4 linked regions of the Homo sapiens genome follow. The protein of the gene in region 3 purifies or fractionates together with the protein of the main gene of each other region. This does not show direct contact. Each region holds a gene or a part of one and is shown on either strand. Other genes may lie near its edges.

Region 1 (3,500 bases), on a different chromosome or scaffold from region 3:
AAGAGCAGGGGCCCCTCAGTGGTGTTTCCTGGGGACCAGACCCACACCCAGGGGTGACCCGCCCCTGGAGGTCTCACCTGGTGCATCTTCCAGTCCATACACCGTCAGAGGCCGGATGATTTTTATCCCTGGGGTATCCATGGGAACCAAGAGCACAGACTGCTGCCGGTGTCTTGGTGCATGTGGGTCTGTTTTTCCCATAAACACACAGAGTTGGCAACGAGGATCCAGGATGCCTGCCAGGAAAGGAGAGAGACAGACCCCATCATCTGACACCAGGGCCATCAAATCTCTACACACGTGGTCCTGGCCCAAGAAAGGCACAGTAAGGAAGCAGACAGAGCTCTTTAAGGCTCCATGTAATCAGATGAGCATCTGCAGACTGCTGACCAGAAATAAGAGCAAATTGGGTTTTGTCCCAGTGAGGAATGAATCCAACATCATAAGAGCAAGTTTTTAAAAGCATCACATAGAGTAGAAAATATAATTTAGAGACAAGAGGATGAAAACCGCTACTTGATCCCTGCCAGCTGGCTCGGCTCCCACAGGTGGTGCACACATAACGGCTCTGGGCCCGGGCCTTGGAATCAGGTGAACCTTTGACTCTGGGTTCTCTACTTGCTGGCTGGGGGCTCATACCCCAGGCAAGGGACCTAAGTCTGAGTGCGGTTTCCTCCTTTGCAAAATGGGGATGCTCATTCTTAATGTCCAGGGAGGTATGGGCTCCGGGAGGTAAGCTCCACGGCTACTTGTAGGGGCCCTGCAAAAGTAACACTGGACAATCCCTAAAAGTCAGGATTGTCATTAGCCCTTAGGATGTAACACACCTGATCGAGGAGCCAGGAAGCCACCAAGGAAGGGGAGCTGCCCAAAGCAGAATGAACAGCAGGAAGTGGAGAGATTCCTGGGGTCACATGTGCAGGGAGGCATCCGTCCATGTGTGGGCACCGGGGGACGTCCCTGCCCTGTGAAGTGCCACCTCTGAGAACAGTGTGCTCCACGGATTACCCTCCTATTCTCCCAGCTGCCTCTGCTGGGGGCGCTAAGTGACAGAATCTCCTTTGTGTCAACTTGAAAAAGCAGAGGCTCCTCCCAGGCATTGAGAGACGCGCCTAACAGCACAGACTCCCTGATGTGCATTTGGAAAGTGCATTTTAGGCCAAATACCTGTGATCCACCATTTGTGACCGTTTATGACATAGAAGCTGTCCTCCTCTCTGATGGAAGCCTCAATGTTGGTGGCATCTGAAGAGGCAACCTGAGTGGGGAGCATATTCCAGTCAGAGACGCCAGCAGACAGCCCGTGTTCCCTGTGGGGCCGACAACAACAGGGCCAGGCAAGTGGGTGGCAGCCCAGGCGACGTACCTGGGGCTCGGTCATAGCAAAACAGGAGCGGGCTTTCCCCTCCAGCAGAGGAATCAGCCAGCGAGCCTTCTGCGCTTCGGTGCCATACCTCACCAGCAGCTCCATGTTGCCCGTGTCAGGCGCAGAGCAGTTACATACCTGAGAAGGAAAAGGAGCGTGACCATGACTGTCATGTCCTCTTCTAAAAAAAACAGAGTCAAGCTCTGTCACCCAGGCTGGAGTATCGTGGCACGATCATGGCTCACTGCAGCCTCGACTTCCTCAGCTCAAGCCATCCTCCCATGCCTCAGCTTCCCAAGCAGCTGAGACTACAGGTATGCACCATCACACCCGATTAATTTTTTATTTTTTTGTACATACAGAGTTCTATGTTGCACACGCTGGTGTCGAACTCCTGGCCTCAAGTGATCCCCCACACTTCGGCCTCCAAAAGTACCGGGATTACAGGTGTGAGCCACCATGCCTGGCCTTCTCACATTAATATTTCAAGCTTCAAATTGGATGGGCATGGTGGCTCACGCCTGTAATCCCAGCACTTTGTGGGGCCAGGGTAGGTGGATCACCTGAGGTCAGGAGTTTGAGACCAGTCTGGCCAACATGGTAAAACCCTGTATCTACTAAAAATACAAAAATTAGCCAGGTGTGGTGGCACATGCCTGTAGTCCCAGCTACTTGGGAAGCTGAGGCAGGAGAACCACTTGAACCCAGGAGGCAGGGGTTGCAGTGCGCCAAGATTTCGCCACTACACTCCAGCCTGGGTGACAGAGCGAGACTCCATCTCAAAAAAAAAAAAAAGTTCAAGTTCATGCCAGTGCTTCTGAATCTGGTTTATCTGTTTAGGATTGAGTTCTTATGAAGATCAGGATGTTCCCACACACTGAGGAAAACTTTAAAGAAGGTACCTCGGGGGCATACAGGGACGTGCCCATGAGCTCACACAGATGTGCATATTCCACATTGGTCAGTCCTGCTCCGTATTTTTTCTCGGGATCAGCCTCTAAGGGTAGGAAAAGGTTCCAAAGTCCTTCAGCTTTGGCTTTCTCCTATCATGGGGAAAATAAGTCAGGAAACCACAGTGGAAGATTTCATTTTATTTTGAACCGTGGAAAACAATGAAAGGGATTGGAGGAAACAAGGCAGACAACCAAACATGCACGTGTGCCCAAAAAAATGATATGAGGAGCTGGGCATGGTGGCTGTGCCTGTGGTCCCAGCTACACAGGAGGCTGAAGTGGGAGGATCACATGAGCCCAGGAGGTTGAGACTGCAGTGAGCTATGACCACACCACTGCATTCCACCCTGGGTGACAAAGCGAGACCCTGTCTCAAAAAAAAAAAAAAAAAAAAAAAAGAGAGAGATGGTGGCTCACGCCTGTAATCCCAGCACTTTGGGAGGCCGAGGCGGGCGGATCACAAAGTCAGGAGTTCAAGACCAGCCTGAACAACATGGTGAAACTCCATCTCCATTAAAAATACAAAAATTAGCTGGGCATGGTGGCACGTGCCTATAATCCCAGTTACTCGGGAGGCTGAGGCAGGAGAATCGCTTGAACCTGGGAGGCGGAAGTTGCACAGAGCAAGACTCCGTCTCAAAAAAAAAGAGAAAAAAAGAAAAGTAGATGATGATTGCATTATGCTCCTGAAGATCTCAAGTAATTTCAAAACTAACACAATCCAAGGTTCACGTGATAAGGAACAGCGGGTGTTTCTGTTTATCAGCTGAAGTGACAGCACTGGGAGACAACACAGAAACTCAGCTCACAGTGGATCTGGCCCTCTAGCTGTGATATTACGGGTTCTCTAGAGAGAGATTTATTAGCTGATACAGCACTGTTTCAAATTTACATAATTCAAATACCCATCAGATAGGCCTAACCTGCCCTGGCTTTCTAAGGCCAAGCATTCCACTGCCTGGGCTGTGCAGTCACACCTGAGCCATCTGCCTGTGACACAGGCACAGCAAGAGCAAGAGATGGAAACTGAGTCATGAAGAGCTGGCTCTTTCTGAGACGATGGAAGCAAAGATCATTCAACTCGGAGCTCCTGTATCTTCACTGCCTGGGATGGTTCAGGTGAGCCCGGTGGGGTCGGGGAGGGTATGCCATGGTATTGGGGTCTTACCACCTCACCATGG
Region 2 (3,500 bases), on a different chromosome or scaffold from region 3:
GTGCAGCAGTGGCAGTTGATAGTAGGAACTGAGGTCATTAAAGGACTTGGCATGTCATGCTAAAGAGCACCCTGTTGGAAGGAGATGGGGTGAATAAACCCTGGGGCATTGAGGACTGGCTGAGACACAGAGAACAGTTAGTGCACTGAAATAGTTCAACTGTGAGAATTTGGTAACCACCTAGTTAAGGGATGAGCCTGAGGTTTATTTGATAACTAAGTGACTTAATGGATGTACTGGTAAGAGAGAGAGGAAACATGGAGCAAGTTTGAGGGGAAAAACAGTGACTCCGTTTGTGCAGCTAATTGCATATGTGGGCTTGTGGGTCTTTCATTTATTCATAAACGTGTTGAGAAATACCTGCTACCTATCTAGTAAAGTAAGAGATGCATCCTCTCTTAAAGGCAGTCAGCTTAGAGTCTGGTGATTTGAATTGACATGTCCACTGATAGATGTTGACACTGTGAGACTGGCGGTTCAGTTTGAGGTTTCATCAGCATTGCCGATATTGGAGCCATGAAAAACCAAAGAACAGCCAGTGAGAGAAGAGATCTCAGAGAAAATAAAATTGAGAAAGTGAAGGACAAAAAATGTTGTGAAGATAGACCAAGATTGATGGAATCAGCCATAGAGAGGTCAAGTGGGATGAGAATGAGCACGCATCTGTTAAACTTTGTGCTTAGGAGCAGAATCTAAGGGAAGGGACAGTCCAGAGGTTAGAACTCAGGGTAAGATGGAAGAACAGGGGCATCTGGGAGTGAGGCAGTTTGGTTTAGTGTAGAACCTTTTTGTAACAAGCATTCCCTTCTGTCTAGATGACTTTTAGATATGTTTCATTGGCTTGGTACCTTTTAGAATAAAATGATTTAGAGGATCTCTCATTTTCAGGGAAAATAAATATATTCCTCCTGGACAAAGAAATAGAGAAGTCATATCCTGGGGAAGTGGGAGACAGAATTCACCGCGTATGGGCCAGCCTGGATCGGGCTCCATGCCATCAAGATCCACTTCTCACACTTCAGATTTCAACCCGAATTCTGGTTCAGACCAAAGAGTAGTTAATGGAGGCAAGTATTTTGACCAGACTTGTCAATATCATTGATAAAATAGTTTTCTAAATACTTAAAATACTTAAAATAGTTTACATAACTGATATGAATGTGCACTTTAATGATTTGGTGAGTAGCTTTCACTTCAGCATTACTTAAAATTGGCTTTTGTGGATATTAAATTAGTAAAACATTGTATATGTCATTGACATATATATTATTTAGCATGATGAAATATTCATGATGTACTAAGATAAAGTGCTACATTTAACCCAAGACAATCACTTGGCCAAAAACACTTCACATATAAAGAAATTGGAAACTTTGGGTAGGTTCTCAATTTTAAAAACACTGGATAATAAAATTTTTTAGACATAATTTATATGGAAAATTCTAACCTATGTGCAACACTGTGGTTAATATAGATCAATTTTCATTATTTGTTTCTATATTATGCTTACTTCAAGAAAGGATCTGAGGTAACTTATAATACAAGACATGATCAAGAGTCATGTGAAGAAAGTGACTAGAGAAATTTGCTTAAAAAACAACAAAAACAACCCTTAGTCTAAGGGTGGATGTTACAGTTTAGCAACTTAAGTAAAAGAAACCTGAATCTTTAGTAGGAAGACATTTTTTACTCTACCTCTAAATCTAGGTTGAATATATCTTGTAGGTTGTGGATCTTTTCCATAAATCAGGGATACTGAACAACAGTTCTATGGATGGTATGGAAATAGTAATAGCAATAGTATGTTACTAACTTTGTGGGAAAAGAGTGGACATTCAATTTTAGCTATTTAAATTTGGAAAGTTAGATGAAAATAGAGAACACTAAGTTTCCAATTTCATTTGTTTTCATTGAGTCTTTTCTCCAGAATTCCTCTCCAAATGGACACTCTTGAGTATTTTCAGTACTTAATATTGGGGGTGAAATTTCTTTGCTCACTGAGGAAAGATTTTAGTTGTTTATAAACAGAATTTTAAAGTTAAAAAACCTGAAGGGGGCTGAGAAATATATGATACTTAAGTGTGTGGAACCCTATGGAGAGGAGACCTGGACTGTTTGATAAGATTAAGGTAAGTGATATGTAATGTTAAATACTAGCTGTATCTTTACCTAGGCATATCCATCAGTATAAATTTATTTGGTGATGACTGCTTTGTAGTTGCAGTATTTATTAAGCAGTCGCTTAGATAAGTGTTTAACTGTATAAATTATTTAGAAGGTCTCCCTTTTTCTAGTTTAATGAGGTCAAGACTTTTTTTTTGAAATAGCAATGAATATTATCATTTGATACTCACAGGAGTCACAAACTCTAGAAGAGTAATGTTTTATTTCTACTTAAATGGGACTTGCTTAATAAGATTCCAAACTGAGTTCTGGGTTCAAGTGTAAACCTGATGAAAATCATAGATAATTGTAAGGAACCAGCATTTCTAATTGGATATAATAGCTACTGCTTATTTTCGTTATGCCTCAGAGTTAAAACTAATACAGTAAATAATCTTACTCCTGAGTAGGAATTATTGTGATTTATTATGTGAAATTATCTAGTGTATGTTATATTCCTTTAAACAACCAGTTACTGAGAAACAGTTATAGAAGCAGGATTAATAGGCAAAGTCTTAACTGTCTTCTTCAATAGTGTGTATAGATCCTAATTAACCCTTTGGGAACGTGTATTCATTTAAACAGACTTAATCTTAAGGAGGTTAAAGTAAAATGTGAATTTATGTCAGTTAAGTTATGCTAAAACTTATCACAAATCAAATGACTGTCCTCAAAGGGTTAAAATGTACAAGAAATCATTTTTGTCATTTTACTTTTTTTCTGTTTACTTTTTTCCCTCATTTTTTTCTTTAGTTTTTATACTTTCCTTCATATCATTTGTTCTGTCAGGTGTTCCCTGGCCATCGCCTTGCCCATCTCCTTCCTCTCGCCCACCTTCTCGCTACCAGTCAGGTCCCAACTCTCTTCCACCTCGGGCAGCCACCCCTACACGGCCGCCCTCCAGGCCCCCCTCGCGGCCATCCAGACCCCCGTCTCACCCCTCTGCTCATGGTTCTCCAGCTCCTGTCTCTACTATGCCTAAACGCATGTCTTCAGAAGGTACAATACCACAATTTGTTCATGTTTTTGTTTGTCTTTGTTTAACTCCTATGTGAGTTTATAATTACAAAATAGTTTCCTCTTCATTATTTAATAACCTATAATTTCTGTGTTTTAACTTTAGTTTATTAAAACTATTTCTATTAACCTTTTGTTCATTAGAGAGAAATTTGATAAATGTGTGAAGCTATAAACTCTCTTGAATTGTTGTTAAAAAGGGGGTTTATCTCTGCCTGATAATTATGCTTCTTTACAGCCCCAGAAGGGTCTGCCCCACAGCCTTCCCCCTCCTTATTTGCACTGTATACAGTAGTTAAACAAATGAACTTTCTTCAGCC
Region 3 (4,292 bases):
TGCTGAATTTTATTTGTAACTCCCAAGTCAATACTTGAAATGTTTTCATGGCCATTTGTGGGCATGCACAGAGCAGTGAAAAATTTGCACATTCCCAGTTAAGGTTCAACAAGGCGTCACGCTGCTGCTGCTTGTTTCAGCTCTCCTATTGAATGAGTGTCCTTCTCAGTCTACTTAGTGCAACGTTTTTCACACTTTGTGCTTTTGCTGGGGATTTGGCTTTTGGAAATGGCCTCTGAGCCTCCTGCTGAAGAGCTGTGTAGTTCCTAAGCACAAGAAGGCTACCTTAGGGAGAAAGCGTGTGTTAGACACTTGATTCAGGTGTGTGCTATAGTGCCATCAGCTTAGCATTGATGAATCAGCAACACATATACTAAATAAAATGTCTTTAAACAGAATCATACATAAAACCAGATTATATGCTGTTGGTTGATGAAAATGTTGTGACCAGAGGCTCACAGGAACCTAATACTGTTTGCTAGTTCAATGTTCACTGTGATTTTATAGAACATAACCATCGCGAATAATGAGAATTGCCTGTGTCTTCTTCAGAGGAATTGTCGTGGGGCTTCATGAGATAATGCCATGAAATGCTGAGCAGTGTCTGGCACAAAGTACCTGCTCAATAAGCTTTTGCCACTATTTTGTTCAAGGCAAAGTGCACTTGCCAAGGACCAAACCAGAACTAGGACAGTAAATGGAAATGGATCTGAGATGGACCTTTAAGATGCAAATGGGGGCCAGGCGCGGTGGCTCACGCCTGTAATCCCAGCACTTTGGGAGGCTAAGGTGGGCGGACCACCTGAGGGCAGGAGTTCGAGACCAGCCTGGCCAACATGGTGAAACCCTGTCTCTACTAAAAAATACAAAAATTAGCTGAGCATGAAGTTGTGTGCCTGTAATCCCAGCAACTCGGGAGGCTGAGGCAGAGAATCGCTTGAACCCAGGAGGCGGAGGTTGCAATGAGCCAAGATCGCGCCATTGCACTCTAGCCTAGGGGACAGAGCGAGACTCCATCTCAAAAAAAAAAAAAGATGCAGATGGGATGGACGGACAGAGAGGAGGGGGACCTTAGGCAGGGGATTAGGCAAGGATAGGGCACCAAGTTTGGGTAAGGCAAGAGAGAGGAGAAACTTTTGGGTGTGGGGTGAAGAGAGGAGGCTGAGGGAGTCCAGGGTTGGAATGTGCTGGGCCTCAACGCCATGCTTAGAGACTCAACCCCACCAAGTCAGGCCCACCAGGGTAAGGTCCATCTGGTTCACAGGCCCTGCTATGTGCCACACTCTAGGTAAATTTTTTTTTTTTTTTTGAGACGGAGTCTTGCTGTGTTGCCCAAGCTGGAGTGCAATGGTGTGATCTTCGTTCACTGCAACCTTCACCTCCCAGGTTCAAGCAATTCTTCTGCCTCAGCCTCCCGAGTAGCTGGGACTACTGGCGCATGCCACCATGCCTGGCTAATTTTTGTACTTTTAGTAGAGACAGCATTTCACCATGTTGGCCAGGCTGGTCTCGAACTCCTGACCTCATGATCCACCGACCTTGGCCTCCCAAAGTGCTGGGATTACAGGCATGAGCCACCATGCCTGGCATGTAGGTAATTTAGTGTCTGGAAGAATGAAAGCAATGGGGAGCTATGGCAGAGCTTGAGGAAGGGGGAAATGGCAGGTACCCTTCATCTAAAAGGTAGTTTCATAATAAAAGCTAATATTTGTAAAGCATTTCCATGCACCAGGTGATGGGCTGAATACCTCACATGGGTTTCCCTTCTCAACAACCCTAAGAGGTTTACTGTTATCAACCTGGTTTCACAGAAGGGGAAATTGAAGCTTGGAGAACTCAAATCCCTCGCCCAGAGTCACCCAGCTCATAAGTGATAAAGCTGGGCTTCAGAGGCATTCAGATGCCAGAGACAAGCTCTTGATCCTTCCTTGCCCATTGAAGGCCCTGGCCTCTGTGTGGCATGAATGATGCCCATGAGACGTACTGGGGAAAGGAAAAGAAGGGGAGAAGCTGGGGAAACTGAGGAAGGCTGGCAGGAGCCCAGGTGTGATGGCGCCAGCAGCACATATCTCAAGCACCTGCTCCGAGCCAGGCTCGTGGGCACTTAGACACAGCCCATACCCTGCCCTCAAGGATCACACAGCTCACGATCACTCTAGTGCCCATGGGCATAAGACCTAGCACCAGGTAGGCACTAGACTAGACTGCCCTGAGACTGCACACACTGCACCATACACATCCCCACCCAAGGGTTCCCGGGAGGAGGAGCCAGGCCACTTACCGACTGTGTGCTCTTCAGCTTTGTACTTATGCTCCTTGGGGGCTTCCCAAGGTGGAATCTACAAGGGAGAGAAGAAGGCAGGGAACTGACTATAAGTCATAGCCTGCCACCGATCTGTTGCTAGTCTGCAGCTTCCTCTCACAGCCCAGAAATGCAGAGATTTCTTCCCAAGACCCAAACCCTTTCTACCTCCCCCCGTTGTCTTCTTAAGGCCCATCTCCCCCAGAAATGCAGGCTGTGCCCTTGTATCCACCCAGTCTGGTTGTCTGTCTCCTCTGCCTGGGCCTTCCGGGCTGGCCTCACCTTTCCACATAGGCCTCCTAGTCACCTGGACCCACAGGTCATGAGCAGAGGCCATGGCTCATGGCTGTGATAGCGACCCCCCAGAACAATCCTGGGACAATCCTGGTTCCCACAGCACTCACCGAAAGTGTTGACTCCAAGCTCACCAGCAGGAACCCCAGGAGCAGCAGAGCCCTCATGGCATCCGTCCGTTGGTCCAGCTGCCTATCCAGGAGTCCAGATCAATAGGACTGGCCAAAGGTCTTGGAAATAGAGATTGGTCAAGCTGCCCTCCTGAGCCTGGTGGGGCACAGGCTGTTTGTGGAAAGCCAAGTGGAGCAACTTCCTTGGTCACCCCTTGAGGGCCGGAAAGTTGGGAGTTTGTGGGTGGGGGTGAAATGAAGAGCTGGGCTCCTCCTCTCTTTTCTAGATAGTGGGACTGGAAGCAGAAGAAGGGACATTCTTATGCTCTGGGTCCTGTGGAGATCAGGAGGTTAAGGAGATCAAAGATCATGGGGATCTTGGAGTCCACTGTGAAGTGTGTTCATTTTCTATTGTCATGTAACAAACTACCATAAACTCAGCATCTTACAACAATACCCACTTTTAATTTTCTTTTTTTTTTTTTTTTTTTTGAGACGGAGTCTCGCTCTGTCGCCCAGGCTGGAGTGCAGTGGCGCAATCTCCGCTCACTGCAAGCTCCGCCTCCCGGGTTCACGCCATTCTCCTGCCTCAGCCTCCCGAGTAGCTGGGACTACAGGAGCCCACCACCACGCCCAGCTAATTTTTTGTCTTTTTAGTAGAGACGGGGTTTCACCATGTTAGCCAGGATGGTCTCGATCTCCTGACCTCGTGATCCACCCGCCTCGGCCTCCCAAAGTGCTGGGATTACAGGCCTGAGCCACTGCACCGGGCCATGTGTCGCCTTTTAAGAACTCACCTGACTAGGTCAGGCCCACCAAAGCCATTCTCCTTTTTTTTTTTTTTTTTGAGACAGAGTCTGGCTCTGTCACCCAGGCTGGAGTGCAGTGGCACGATCTTGGCTCACTGCAAGCTACGCCTCCCGGGTTCACGCCATTCTCCTGCCTCAGCCTCCTGGGTAGCTGGGAATACAGGCACCCGCCACCACGCCCAGCTAATTTTTTGTATTTTTAGTAGAGATGGGGTTTCACTGTGTTAGCCAGGATGGTCTCGATCTCCTGACCTCGTGATCTGCCCGCCTTGGCCTCCCAAAGTGCTGGGATTACAGGTATGAGCCACCATGCCTGGCCCTGCCATTCTCCTTATTTTAAGGTCAAACAATTTGGGACTTAAATTACATGTGCAAAATTCTTTCACAGAAGCATCTACATTCATGTTTGACAGAATAACTGGGAGGTGTGCAAACACCAGGGGTAGAGATCTTGGGGCCATCTTAGCATTCTACCAACCACAGGAAGTGAGGCAAGAAAGCAAATGATTTAATGAGAAAAGTGCTAAACCAAGGGGCACTAAGATGTGCAGCTGGAACATGAGAAGAAGACGGGGTGCACATGTGCTGCCCAGCATCTGTCCTGGTTCGGTAATGACACTTTGATTTTTCCTTTAGCAACGACTCCTCTCTTACTTCTTCCATGGGCTCTAGTGCTGCCAACTCTACCCTCAGAGCTAGGGCTAGAGATGTGGCCTAGGTCTGGTCAATCAGAGCATGACATCTCTAATCCACAGTGATTGGTTCAGAGATAAGCAT
Region 4 (3,500 bases), on a different chromosome or scaffold from region 3:
TATATTTTGCTTGAAGTTTTCTGTGGATATATATTGCATTAGCTTAAACTCTAAGGCTTTTCCTGTAGCAGTACTTTACTCCTATTTTCCTTCGGTTTGTTTTTAATAGTCTTGGTTTATCTAGTTTATGGTGCAGCTTGTCACATTCATCTTTTATAAGAGGAAATGGTTCATAGATTCTTCAAGATTAATCCCTCTGTCATGTGGTATTACATTAGACAGCTGGCAGTTTATATATATAGATAAATGACTATTAGAAATAATGTTATAGAAAGTTTCTAAGATTTGTATTCCAGACAGTGAATTTTTCTAAATGTCACAGGAACACTCTTCTTTGCCAGTTTTTCAAGTTTGCACATGCCAAATCTTATTTAGAAATGTTTGATGTCTCTCAGTCCAAGTTGACTATTAATATTTTCTTCATTCTTTATTTTAGATCCAAAGATAGCATCTTCTGTCACTGCTGGAGTTGCCAGTTCACTCTCAGAAAAAATAGCCGACAGCATTGGAAATAACCGGCAAAATGCACCATTGACTTCCATTCAAATTCGTTTTATTCAGAACATGATACAGGAAACGTTGGATGACTTTAGGTAGTAATTGAGAAACTACTCCTTCTATCTAGACCTTACTTGTTTTTTTTTTAGATGTAAAACCAGAACTATAGATAATGTTGTTGGTTACTATTGTCTAGGTTCTGGTAATCCTAAAGCCATAGAAAACATAATGAGTTTTGTTGATCTTTTCGTACTGCATTTATTGATTATGAGCCAGGAAAAGGCACATTTACCTAGGGCAATTATTAGGTAACTCAGCAGGGCAGTCTAGCAGGTAGACTGCCATTGTGAACTTTTTTTATTATTAAAATGTGGACAAGTTCTGGTAAGCTTAAATTGGGTTCTTAACCTGCAGTATGTTCATAGATCTATTAGGTATGCTGTGTGCAATAATGTAGTAGAAAAAGATACTTTAAAGCACAATTCTGAATGTTTTCCAATAGAATGCATCAGAATGTAATACTTAATCTAAAAAAAATTCTTTCTCAGACTTATCCTTGTCTGTCTCATCCTTCGAATTGTGAACATTCTAAGAATGTGTTCTACAATGCTGCTTTCTTTTATCATCTCAATATTTTTGGAAGCTATCTTCAATTATTAAAATCATTGGTGCCTTTTTTCCTTTCTAACCTATAGTTAATGTTGTAGCTCAGATTTGGATTACCGTAAGCAAGAATGTTGGAGAAAATGTGCAGTTTTTGTTGGTGCATGCTTCCTTTTAATGTTTTAAAATACTTTTAAAATATATTTTTAAATGTCGAAAAATACTTTTTAAAGAAAAATTGTAATTTTGGCATTTACCCTACCTAGTATATGTACCAGATACTAAGGATACATCAAATGATCTGCCACAAAGGCCTTGTGATGTAGTTGGGCTAGGTGCAGTGTGTTCTGCCATGTGTGTTTCTCTTAATGTGAATTAATTCATTTGGGATCAGTAGAATAGAACACTGTTGACAATATGATGAGGAAATTTTGTTTGTTCGTGTAATAGCAGCCAAAATAAAGTACACCTGAACACAGCTGAATGCAGCAAACCCCGTCAGCATCCATCTCTTTTTATTCACTTCCTCTTGGCTTGGCTGTGTGGTCTGTTAGAAGTACTTATTTTGTGATTATTTCCCATCTTTGGGCATTTTGCTCTTGCCTCTGTAACTTGATAGCCGCAATCCTTCTATCCTCTTCCATTAAGTGACCATCACTTCTTCACAGTAAGGGTATTATTCAATAATTATCTATTAGATTTTTACTATGTCTTTTTAACTATGTTAGTATTTTTATTAGGATTTAATTGTTTTTGTTGTGCTCTGGTTACAAAGTTGCATAGGTTTTTGAGTGCTTTGCCCTAATCCTTTTTCCCTAAGTTCTGTTATTTTTAATACACAGTGTTAAAGAATATACGTTTTTTTCAGGAGTGCATAAATATTTATGGCATAATAGTAGAACTGTCTGGATACAGCTGACTATAATACAGTGTGAGCAAAGTGATGTTGAAATCACAGAAAGGGAGCAGTTCTTCTGTGGGGGCAGATTTAGAAAGGTACACTGAAGAGATTTTATTTTATACTGATGTGTGTGGGAACAGCTTGAGCAGAGACATGATCATACATTCTAGGAATGTTTGCAGAGAGAAGGCACCGTGGTAAGAGACCAGGCCTGAGGGACAGTTGTGAAGGTCTTAACACACAGGTAATGGAGAGCCATCAGAGTTTTTAAGCACAGGAGTAATGGGTGCTGTCTATTTATTACCCATTTATTCAACAAGCATTTGGGTGTCAGTTCACCACTGGCTTCAGATGATTTGAGGACAGTGGGCTCAGGGCCTTTCCTTCAGCAGACCCAGGGATCTGAGTGCTGGAGCAACTCTGAAATCGCTGTGCATTTCTGCCCTGCTGCCAGCTTTCGGGGTGGCTGGAGCTTGTTTTTCACTATCTAACCTGTTCCTGGCTTTCTGTGCCTCAGGAGAAGTGTGTCTGTCCCACTTTCAGCCCTGCAGAGCTGCTGCAGCACGTTTGGTGAAGACGTACAGTCAGTGCCTCTTGGTTTTGCTGCCCTGTGCTGCATGTCTGCACCTAGGAGTGGTGGGTAGGGACTTCTCTCAGCTCTTCTGCCCTTTGACCATAGGCAGCCTCTGCCTGGGACGCAGTGAAGACCCAGAGTGGCTCAGAGGATTTCCATAAATTCACTTGTTTTGCCATTTGCCTAGGTGTTCATCAGACTAGGTGTTCATCTACACCTATCATTGGCAGGACAGAGAGGGTATTGAGGACCTCTTTCTCAGCCATCCTCCCGTGGCTGCCATCTTCTCCATGAGAGCCTGGAGTGCCTTAGAGGGGTTACTCTCAGTTCTTCTCTGCTGCCCTAAGGTTTCACCAGGCTCTGTGCATCTGTATCTTAGGGAGTCTCCCTCAGCCCTCCTGTTACACTTGTCCCTACTTTTTTTACATGAGCGCTGAATGAAGGCTTGTGGGAAAAAGTTGGTGAGTAAATTGAGACTCTCCTTGTGGCTGGGACCCCTTGGAATTCTAAACTATCAAGCAGTGTTTACTTGGCTTTTAAAAATCTTATTAAAATTTCAGCTAGTTCTTTTTACTCTGTCAAGGGCATGAAGATGGGTCTCTTTTCTCCTAGTCATGGGTCTCTTTTCTCCTAAGAGGAACTCCTCATTTTCTGGATTTTAGTTCATTTAGATTTCTTTCCATTCTCAGCTCTCGGTTGAATTTAAAATAATATGATTTTATAGGTTATCAGGTTTGTTTTCGTTATTAGAGTTGAGAAATTATACTTTTGCACCAACCTAATACATCCTAAGTGGAAATCTGTGCATCTGTTTCTGTTGTCTATTAAGAAGATTTAAGTTTCTTTTGGCAAGCAGATCCCTTTGATCCTTTGGTTACTAGGTTCAGGTTTTCTTAGCACTAGTTTGTTTCCAGTTTGCCTTTA

The links. The genes of interacting proteins can lie anywhere in the genome.
Region 1: the proteins of F12 (region 3) and ACAD10 purify together in Homo sapiens (affinity purification with mass spectrometry; one large-scale study listed by BioGRID and IntAct). This does not show direct contact.
Region 2: the proteins of F12 (region 3) and ATXN2 purify together in Homo sapiens (affinity purification with mass spectrometry; one large-scale study listed by BioGRID and IntAct). This does not show direct contact.
Region 4: the proteins of F12 (region 3) and NEDD1 purify together in Homo sapiens (affinity purification with mass spectrometry; one large-scale study listed by BioGRID and IntAct). This does not show direct contact.

What each region holds. Positions count from the first base shown.
Region 1 is NC_000012.12:111,745,053-111,748,552, reverse strand, and holds part of ACAD10 (acyl-CoA dehydrogenase family member 10), read right to left. Parts: intron 2,410-3,500; coding exon 2,269-2,409; intron 1,505-2,268; coding exon 1,367-1,504; intron 1,259-1,366; coding exon 1,168-1,258; intron 237-1,167; coding exon 78-236; intron 1-77.
Region 2 is NC_000012.12:111,515,816-111,519,315, reverse strand, and holds part of ATXN2 (ataxin-2), read left to right. Parts: intron 1-888; coding exon 889-1,067; intron 1,068-2,952; coding exon 2,953-3,162; intron 3,163-3,500. UniProt on the Homo sapiens protein: Involved in EGFR trafficking, acting as negative regulator of endocytic EGFR internalization at the plasma membrane.
Region 3 is NC_000005.10:177,406,765-177,411,056, forward strand, and holds the start of F12 (coagulation factor XII preproprotein), read right to left. Parts: upstream 2,801-4,292; 5' UTR 2,764-2,800; coding exon 2,707-2,763; intron 2,340-2,706; coding exon 2,282-2,339; intron 1-2,281. UniProt on the Homo sapiens protein: Factor XII is a serum glycoprotein that participates in the initiation of blood coagulation, fibrinolysis, and the generation of bradykinin and angiotensin.
Region 4 is NC_000012.12:96,945,257-96,948,756, forward strand, and holds part of NEDD1 (protein NEDD1), read left to right. Parts: intron 1-436; coding exon 437-593; intron 594-3,500. UniProt on the Homo sapiens protein: Required for mitosis progression. Promotes the nucleation of microtubules from the spindle.